2 linked regions of the Homo sapiens genome follow. Changing the gene in region 1 together with any one later gene gives a genetic interaction. Each region holds a gene or a part of one and is shown on either strand. Other genes may lie near its edges.

Region 1 (4,836 bases):
AACATACAGGAGACTCTGCCTCTACAAAAATAATTTTTTAATTAGCTAGGCGTGGTGGTGCATGCCTGTGGTCCCAGCTACTCGGGAGGCTGAGATGAGAGGATCACTTGAGAGGTTAAGGCTCCAGTGAGCCATGTTTGTGCCACTGCACTCCAGTCCAGGTAACAAAGCAAGACCCTGTCTTTAAAAAACAAAAAATGTAGTCCCAGCTACTTGGAGAGCTGAGGTGGTAGGATCACTTGAGCCCGGGAGGTTGAGGCTTCAGTGAGCAGAGATCAAGCCAACCTGGGAACAGAGTGAGATCCTGTCTCCAAAAAAAGAAAAGGTGGGAGACTTCACAGACAGTTCTGAAAGCAAAGGCACAGGGAAATTACATATCTGTGTGTGTCTTCTGGGCTCTACTACCTACTAGTTTTCTGACCTTAAGACCCTTTCCAAGCCTGTTTTCCTCCTCACTTCCAAAATGGTTTTACCCAAGGTAATGGCAGTTTTGAAGCATGAATAAGACAGACCAAGTAAAGTGCTTAGTACTAGATCGAGACATTACACAGTACTCAAGAAATGGTAGCTACTTTTATTACCAGCAGGCCGTTAGTTTCACAGAGGAAGAACAGTTTCTACAGGTGGTGATCTAGTCTCCGGTTCCACCTTTCACTCTTTTCTGTGGCCTTGGGCAAATCATTTAATCTGTCTTTGAAGCTATTTCCCACATTCATAAACTACGTGGGCAAGTGAAAATAATTCAACCCTTTTTTCCCAAATAGAAAAATACTTAAGATTTTAGCACTGATCCATCAGAGAAGCCACACTGGAAAACCTACGCAGAAACTAAAACTTGGTACCATTCACTATCCTCAAGTTTATAGAATTAAAAAGTAACAGACGTAATAGGTATAAATACTCAGAAAACATGAACATGTCTCATGTCAAATAAGAACAGAAAGTTGGTGTGTAAAAAATGTGGATTAGCTGTCAATATATAAAACACAGAATACTGTTTTTAAAAAGAATTGTTTATTTACCGAACCTGGGGCATATTAGATACAACCAATTTTAAATTTACATCTTTTAAATCAGTTTTGAAGTGTTTCACACACACAAAAAACTTGGCATGCAACAGTTGTCCTAAGGTGAAAGTCACCTCATTAATAAACTGTTGCAAGTGTTCTCACCCAAGGTGGAAGTATGGTTTATCCTGAACATGAAAACCTGTAACAAATTTAAATTAATTATATAAAACTCGTTACTTGTAGTTTTGCCCTTGCAAAGATCCAAAAAAAAAAAAAAAAGCACAAGTAACTAATATGTATCAGTCACAACATAATCCTGGATCATCCCCATACCAAAACCGGATGCTCTTTTAATTTTAAACCCATCATCAGAGAACAAGAGAAAGTAATTTCATTTTACACAAAACAAGATTCACATGTGCCAAAAAAGAAAGACCCAAAAGAAACAAAAACCAAAACCCTAATGCTGACACTGATGGTCAGTACCCTGAACAGTGGCCCAAAGGCCACTGATCAAAAATAAAATAGTGGCTGTATATCAATGAAATGAAATCCAAGAAGCTTTAACCCTTTGGCATCAGAAATCCAGATTTTTCCAATTATGTAAATGCTTATTTCTTACATGCCAAGAGTGGGAGAAGTGAATGTGCCAATGTGGAAAGAAAAAAAGCCACCACTCACTGGGACACCCAGAGAATTGGCTTTAACAGACAATTAGGGGGTTAGGCAGAAACCCAGAAATGGTTATTAGCTGCTTGTGTCATCAATTTAAGTGGAGATGACTGAGTCCTAAGGTACAATGTAAAAATGTATGTGGGAAAATGTATGCTGAGTCGTAGTTTTAAAGCAAAACAAGAAAACAAAGTATGAAAGTACCCAGCCTGGCAGCATACACCCAAGTCAGAGAGCTCTGCCATTAGGACGGGCAGAAACCGTCAAGATTCATACTGCTGTTTCTCATAAGGACTCAACAAAAATGAATCTTTAGTGACTTGAACCATAGACTGAAGGAATCCAAAGAATGCAGTCATTTTAGTAAAGTACTATCAGGCTTTGTGCTGATTTCCTGAACAAACTGCATTATATTATGAAAACAAAAGGAAAAGAAGAAATAATAAAAACTATACTCCCATATTTCACTTACAGTGTTTGAGTTCCTGGAAGGACCTATATAATGGAGGCAGCATTCAAACAAGAAATTATGCCAATCAACTGTCAAATTTTCACTATAATTTTCCTAAAAAGGCGTTTTTCCCCCAATATCTATTAATCTCAAAGAAACATAAGTTGTGAATGTACAGTTCAGAAAATAAAAATGGAGAAACTAATGACATTATTATGACCAAGGTGTTTGGTAAACAGTGAATTCTGAGTTGGGATCATCAGGAAGAGGCTTTTTAAACAACTCTCCGGACTTCAAAAAATCTCTTCAGGTAGTAGATCTGTCCCAATGTCATGGCAACTAGAACAAGAGCTTCAAAGAAGGACCAAAGGACCACTCTGCTGTTTGTGTTGTCGTTGACTGTTGAGGACAAAACAAACAAACAAAATTTAACAATTCTCCCCCAAAAAGACATAGGCATCATAAATATTTTAGTCTTCACTCTGTGTGAAAGTAATATTGTGTACACCACTCATAGAATAGATGTTCCTCAACTTACGATGGGGTTACATCCCAATAAACCCAGCTTATGTTGAAAATACATAAGTCAAAAATATATTTAATACACCTAACCTAGCAAACATCATAGCTTAGCCTAGCCTACGTAAAACACGATCAGAACACTTACATTAGCCTACAGTTGAGCAAAAGCATCTAACAACACAAAGATTATTTTATAATAAAGTGTTGTGTATCTCATACACGTTAAACTGCATTTTATTATTATTTTCTATTTTATTTATCAAGTTAGTGAACACTGCACTGAAAGTAAAAAACAGAATGGTTGCATGGGTACTTGATGCTCAGTTTCTTCTGAATGCACATCACTTTTGCACCATCATAAAGCTGAAAATTTCTAAGTGAAGTCATTGTAACCTATGGGTCACCTATACTCTAAATACTTTTGTCTCCAAGCAACTCAACATACTCCAAAGCAAAGACTTTTTTGTTTGCTCTGTTGCCCAGGCTGGAATGCCATGACACAATCATAGTTCACTGCAACCTTGAACTGTACTCAAGCAATCCTGCCACCTCAGCCTCCTGAGTAGCTGGGAGTACAGGTATGCACCAGCCCATTTGACTAATTTTTTCTGTTTTTGTAGAGAAAGGGTCTTGCTATGTTGCCCAAGTTGGTCTTGAACTCCTGGCCTCAACTGATCCTCCTGCCTCAGCCTCCCAAAGTAGAAGCAAAGATTTTTAAAAGAAACCTTAAAGATTCACTGGGTACAGCCAAGTCCATTCTGCTTGTATATGGGGAGCAGAGAAGAAAATGTGACTTGCCCAAGGTCATAATTCTAGGGTTAAAACCCAATACAACCATCTTTCTCCCTCACCATTGAAACGTCCTGTATTAGTATCCAATTTGCTGAATCAGAAAACTGACTTCTAAAAAAATTAAGGAATTATTTCAAAATCACAGTTATCCAAAATGCAATTATTTACAACATCAAAATATGGCAGTCTGAGTGTCTTTTTCCCCAAATATGTTACAAATATTTGTTGAGCACCTGTGTACTTGTCAATTGTTCTCAATGGAAGAGGTTACTCAGTTATATGGATCCATACTGACAGTTACTACCAGACCATCAAATACAAGACAAACTATGCTCATCTGTCCTGCTCTCAAACTAAGGATTTGATCCTTAAAGTAAAATCCACACCTACTCTATATTTACTATACTCTATTTGTTACATTCAAGTTTCTGATCAAATTCTTTTTATTTACTTACTTTTTTTTGAGTCAGAGTCTCACTGTCACCCAGGCTGGAGGGCAGTGGCGCAATCTCAGCTCACTGCAACCTCTGCCTCCTGGGTTCAAGTGATTCTCCTGTCTCAGACTCCTGAGTAGCTGGGATTACACGTGCACACCCCCATGCCTGGCTAATTTTTGTATTTTTAGTAGAGATAGGGCTTCACCATGTTGGTCAGGCTGGTCTTGAACTCTTAACCTCAGGTGATCTGCCTGCCTCGGCCTCCCAAAGTGCTGGGATTATAGGCATGAGCCACCACGCCTGGCCAAATTCTTTTTATTTTTAAATGTATTTTATTATTATTATTATTTTATTTTTTATGTTTTGAGACAGAGTTTCACTCTTGTTGCCCAGGCTGGAGTGCAATGACGCGATCTCAGCTCACTGCAACCTCCACCTCCTGGGTTCAAGCGATTCTCCTGCCTCAGCCTCCCAAGTAGCTGAGCTTACAGACATGTACCACCATACCTGACTAATTTTGTATTTTTAGTAGAGATGCGGTTTCTCCATGTTAGTCAGGCTGGTCTCGAACTCCCGACCTCAGGTGATCCACCCACCTCGGCCTCCCAAAGTGCTGGGATTATAGGCATGAGCCATCACGCCTGGCCAATTTATTTTATTTTTTTAAAAACGGTCTCGTGTTGCCCAGGTTGGTCTCAAGCTCCTGACCTCAAACAATCCTCCTGCCTCAGGCTCAGAAGCAGCTAAGACTACAGGCACAAGCCATTGTGTCCAACTCTCCAGTCAAATTCTATAGCCTTAGCTTTTAATTACTATGTAGGCTGGGCACAGTGGCTCATGCCTGTAATCCCAGCACTTTGTGAGGTCGAGGCGGGTGGATCACGAGGTCAGGAGATCGAGACCATCCTGGCTAACACAGTGAAACCCCGTCTCTACTAAAAATAAAAAAAAT
Region 2 (6,058 bases), on another chromosome or scaffold:
TTAAAACCTGTAGTAGCTTTGAACCGTTTGTACTTGAAAATGGGGGTATAAAGGGGTATATATTTTTTCCAGAACCACATTTATTGGCGTATACATAGAAGCAAATCTTAAGGCATGCTGAAATTTGTTGTAAATCCCAATCTTTACTGCCATGGGGAAAAGAACGCTGGAATTTTCCAAACTTAAGTCTGTAAATATGCTCATCTTAAGTTCATGTAATGTTTCCGCTAACTCACCAAGAATAAGCTGACAATTTAAACAACTTTTACTGTGTAAAAATGAAGTGCACGGCATGGCATCACAGTATCTTGACATTTGTTTTGTGTCATTTAGCTACTTTAGAAAATAGTTTCTGAACTCTTTCCCCCTTTATACTGTATTAAGGCAAAAACAAAACTTCTGAAGCATTAAAGATCTTCACCAAAATAACTATTGGTAACTTCAGGAATTTGTCAGTTGCCTTATGTGAGGATGAATAGATCCACCAAGCACGCCTATAATACAAAGTAAACTATGATTTTTATTGTGAAATTTTCATAGATGGAAAATTGAATATTCTGTCCATTTCATTTTACAATTATCTTACCACTTATTTTTGTACCATGTATTTCAATTGCCTGTTTAGTGAAAAATAAAAATTAAAAAAACCTATTCATTTTTGGCTTGTGTTTAGCTTAAATTTTATCATTAAATTAAGGAGCCCACAACAAAATGTGTTGCCAGCAGCCATATCCCAAGCCCCTGCGTGAAGAATGTTTTGGCTGCTATTTCAACCTAAGGAAACAACGTTTGACCTCAGTCACCTTAAAATGCCAGTGTGGGCAGAAGATTTTTTATTCCTCACAATTAAAAACCAAACAAAACCCCCTAGGATCTTGAAGGTCCTATTTCAGAAAATCTTCATATATGCAAAATGTCACCAAAATAAATACATTTGCCTCAATTATCATTACCACCCAGTATTCATGTTTTAATTTTTAGGGATATAATTTCTAAATTTAGAGCAATCAAATTTCCTGCTTCCTATCTTAATGCTTAAACCCTCCTCCAACACCAAGTTAAGCAACTGTGGAGGATAAAATAGTTGAATCTGACTGAAAGCATGGAAGAAAAACATTAGCACACATTAGTCTGATCATTTGCCAATTAGGAAAGGTGCTGCTTTCTACCTCTACCACAGATGCATTTATGAAATGTTGATCAATGAAGCTATTTCAAATGGTTTTAGAGAAGGATCAGAGATAACGGGCTAGATAGCATACATTCTAAACTTGTTTTACATATAGTTTGAGCTCCCTGAACCACTGAAGTTGGTTAAATCCCTACACAGCACAGAAGCCCCTCTAGGTCATGTTATTGGGCATATTATCTAGAAAGCAAATACTGGATGCTGCTCTAAGATAGGTCTAGAATACCTTAGTTTGCATTGTGCACACACAAATGGCTGTGTTGAATATAATGCAAGGCTCTATTTCCCTTTAACCATAAGAATCAAAACAATACTTATCACCATACAGTTTGATATTACTTCCAATAAGTACAATATTTATTAAACATATCTTCAGTTGTTTTGTTACATAGTGTGCAACAAATTACAATATTCTGCAGCCACAAATTATATGCAGAGTATGAAGAAACTATTAATCAGATAGTGTAATCTTTCCATTTATAACTCTACAAGGAAGAACTAGCAAATCAGATCTTACATATAACATCTCACTAAACTTTATGCATGGAAAGTGACAGACACTGCTTGTGCTGTTTGATACAAAATGGCTGAACTTCATCTTCAGAAGACTAAACCTGACATCTAAACATGCCAATATAAACATCAAAACAAAATATATTCTAACCAACCACGGGAAACAGTCTGGTATCAGGAAAGCAACAAGGATTACACACATTATTTTATAAACCAGCACACAAAGGTTTAAAACAGTTCTGAAAATGAAGTTAGCTGTCTTGAGTCAAGGGAATAAAAAAAAAGTCAGTATTGACCATTTACAATCTCTGACCTTTGTGGAGACGGTAAGAATCTGTTGTAGTGCAGCTACATACAGTACAATTCAGGCAATTTTGTTTTTTCACTTGGGTTCAGATTGCAAATTCATTGCTGTGAGAAAAGGATGGAGGCAAATTTTAGCAGCAACCTCCACCTGACTGCTTGACTGGAGTGCTCTGAATTTTAACATTGGACTTCTCAGCACCACCAGCTGTTGCTCCGGGACCCATTCGCTTTTTAATCTCAGCTGCCATCGTCATGAAAGACTGTTCTACATTCGTTGCATTCTTAGCACTGGTTTCCAAAAACGGAATTCCAAGGGAATCAGCAAATTCCTAAGAGAATAATGAGGCACAATTAACACTGAAAAATCTTTTTCACTAATTCTTAGTGCATTTCTACCATCCATAATGGAGCGTGAGGAACTAAGTTCATTGGATCCAAACAGATGCTACACAAATTGTCACTGTCACAGTATTCTAGTGCACATATTTTTAAAAGGCTGTGGCCTTACTGTTACTGCAGAACCCATACATAATTCAACACCTTCAAATTCAGTATGAAAATTAAACTTTAAACATACCTTCGCTGTTGTGTAGTCTACTACTTTCTTTGTGGTCAGATCACATTTGTTCCCTACCAACAATTTGTTGACATTTTCACTGGCATAACGATCTATTTCCTGCAGCCACTGTTTAACATTATTGAAGGACTCCTAAAAAGACATTTGAAAGACTGATAATATAGTTCGATAATATAGTTCTGGAATAAACAGAAACATCGTTCCTGACCTAACAGACAAATAACAAAGAGCTAGTGAGACAACTCTAGCTACAAAATAACCACTGCTAAGGAGTGAAGAGATTTTTTTTTTTGAGACAGGGTCTTGCTCTGTCACCTAGGCCGGAGTGCAGTGGCACAATCACAGCTCACTGCACCCTCGACCTCCCAAGCTCAAGCCATCCTCCCGCCTCCGCCTCCGGGATAGCTGGGACTACAGGCACATGCCACCACACCTGTCTTTTTTTTTTTGGATTTTTTGTATAGATGGAGTTTCACTATGTTGCCCAGGCTGGTCTCGAACTCCTGAGCTCAATCGGCCCACCTTGGCCTCAAAAAGTGCTGAGTTTACAGGTGTTAGCCATTGCAGCTGGCCGTAAACAGATATATTAAAATGACTATAAATATCTAAACAATGACAAACTAGAATTTACAGGCTTAACGATGAAAATACCTTATTTGAAAGGGAAGTATAGCTTAATATTAAACTGCAACGCAGGCAAACCCAACTGCTTTGGAATATGCAATTTAAATGTACTACAAAACCTGGTTTTGAAATTTGATTAATTTTTTTTTTTTTTTTTTGAGACAAAGTCTTGTTCTGTCATCCAGGCTGGAGTGCAATGGCGCGATCTCGGCTCACTGCAACCTCTGCCCGCTGGGTTCAAGCGATTCTCCTGTCTCAGCCTCCCAAGTGGCTAGGATTACAGGCACGGGCCCCCACGCCTGGCTAATTTTTGTATTTTTACTAGAGATGGGATTTTGCCATGTTGGCGAGGCTAGTCTCTAACTCCTGACCTCAGGTGATCCGCCCGCCTCGGCCTCCCAAAGTTCTGGGATTACAGGCGTGAGCCACTGCGCCTGGCCTGAAATTTGGTAAAATTTTGGTTTATGAATAAGATGACCTACTGTTACTACTAGAGATGTCAAAAGATGTTATTAAATATACTCATTTTCTTTTCCACAGTCATATTTAGAGGACGAAAGTTTTCATTTAAAAATATTTCACGGTAATAGTAGAGATTTTTTAAACTAGCATCATTTTTTTCTCCTGCAGATATCACCCACCCAGCACTTCTAATGGCACTGAATCTAAATGCTTACATGTAAGTTATCTCCTAATTAGCTATGATTTCTCATTAGAGGTGAGATTTAACATTTGCCAAAAGAAAAATAAATTCCAATTTTGAACGTTTATCTTTTGTCCTTTTCTTTGATAGAAAGGACACTGAAATCTAAGTTTCTGATTTAAAAAAATAGTAACAAAAAAAGTTATGGCCCCTGGATCACATGCTTCACACTGTCCCACATTGTTCCCTCCATCGCTCTGCCCTCTCTCACAGCTAATCTTCAGATACTCATTCTCATACTAAGATCCTCCTACAGCTTATCCTATTCAAATTCTTTATTTCTGAACCACATCCTCCATAGGCAGAGACCCCCGAATCCCACTTTTGGCAATTCTGATGGACAAGTTCTAATTACCAGGCCATATTCCTGTTAATACTTAACACCAAGAACACAGTATAAGCCAAGCAACTCACGATTCCCTACAAACTCTTGCCTATATGTTAGAGTCTTGGCTATTTGATCAAAGTTATTTAGTTGACAATAAATACAACCAGAATCCCTTGAAAGCAAACGTAAAACTAATTACTAATCTTTTATTTATTACAGGAAAACAAATGTCTTTTAAGTGATTCACATTTATATTTGAGAGTGGACAAAGTTTTCTGCCATAAAATTAATACTGATGGCTTATATATGAAGTAGTAAATGAATCTGACATTAATCAAATAATGGCTTCCTACTTGGTCACTGTAACACAATCTCCTCTTGGAACTTACCTGATCTGTCACATCATACACAACTATGATGCCATGGGCTCCTCTGTAATAACTGGAGGTGATTGTTCGAAATCTTTCCTGGCCTGCTGTGTCCCACTATTACAAAACAATCAAGAAATCCAAACAATTCCATTAAAATAAAGTTGGGGAAAAGTGTAGGAGGGAGGGGAAATAGTTTAGTTTTCATAACTGTGGAGATTATCAGGATGTGATATAGAAACATTAGTCCTCAACTCATACCACTAAATTGCACGGTAATAAGCACCTGAAAGTCCAGAAAAGAAGTAGTACCTACAATTGAGCTTACGATAATAATACTAAAATTACAAGCTGTTGAGAGCAGGAACTATGTCATACTTTTCACATTCCCTACCGCCTTTAACACTGTGTTTAGGAATGCCACTGGCCGAAAGCCCTTGAACACAGAACTCTTCCATGTAAGACAAACTCACTTGCTAGCACATTCTACCATGATTAAAAGCACTGGAGGGACCTAATTCAAATAACTACCAGTCAAGACAGAACTTTAATCATCCCAAGCAGGTGTCTTTTTTTTCCCCTCTCAAGCAGCGTCTCATTCTGTCATCCAGGCTGAGTACAGTGGCATGATCATGGCTCGCTGCAGCCTCAACCTCCCACCTCAAGCAATCCTTCCACCTGAGCCTCCTGAGTAGCTGGGACTACAGGCACATGCCACCACACCCGGCTAATTTTTTCTTTTTTGTAGAGACAGAGTCTCGCTACATTGCCCAGGCTGGTCTCAAATTCCTGGACTCAAGCAATTATCCTAACTCATTCTCCCAAAGTGCTGGCATTACTGGCATGAGCCACCATGCCTGGCTAGGTGTTGTCTTCATCCTAGAGAAAAAAATGTAAGGAAGATGACTCCAAATACTTTCATAAAACGTATTTTAAGAACAATTTACTGCACTTCAACCATTTAGGCTCAAACTCCCAAAACAAATGCTAACATTATTGCATTATAGTTCTGGGTTTTAAAAAACTGTTGGGACTGGGTACGGTGGCTCACGCCTGTAATCCCAGCACTTTGTGGGGCCGAGACGGGCGGATTACGAGCTCAGGAGTTCGAGACCAGCCTGACCAACATGGTGAAACCCTGTCTCTACTAAAAATCCAAAAATTAGCCAAGTATGCTGGCGTGCGCCTGTGGTCCCAGCTACTCGAGAGGCTGAGGCAGAATCGCTTGAGCCCAGGAGGCAGAGGTTGCAGTGAGCTGAGATCACACCACTGCACTCTGGGCAAGAGAGCCAGATCCTGTCTCAAAAAAAGAGAAAAAAAAAAAAAGAGGCTCAAAGTCTTTCAGTGTATCCTTGGAGGAAGCATGAACTCGAGGATCAAGCTACCCTGACTTCAAAACATCAAATCCAGGTTCCTGGTTATTTAATATTAGGGAGAGTCACCTAACAGT

Evidence for each region.
Region 2: changes in TMED2 (region 1) and RAB1A are lethal when combined (synthetic lethality), as found in Homo sapiens cells (one study listed by BioGRID).

The regions. Positions count from the first base shown.
Region 1 is NC_000012.12:123,594,301-123,599,136, reverse strand, and holds the end of TMED2 (transmembrane emp24 domain-containing protein 2 isoform 1 precursor), read right to left. Parts: intron 2,533-4,836; coding exon 2,408-2,532; 3' UTR 555-2,407; downstream 1-554. UniProt on the Homo sapiens protein: Involved in vesicular protein trafficking. Mainly functions in the early secretory pathway but also in post-Golgi membranes.
Region 2 is NC_000002.12:65,086,354-65,092,411, forward strand, and holds the end of RAB1A (ras-related protein Rab-1A), read right to left. Parts: intron 4,726-6,058; coding exon 4,630-4,725; intron 2,718-4,629; coding exon 2,586-2,717; intron 2,338-2,585; coding exon 2,140-2,337; 3' UTR 501-2,139; downstream 1-500. UniProt on the Homo sapiens protein: The small GTPases Rab are key regulators of intracellular membrane trafficking, from the formation of transport vesicles to their fusion with membranes.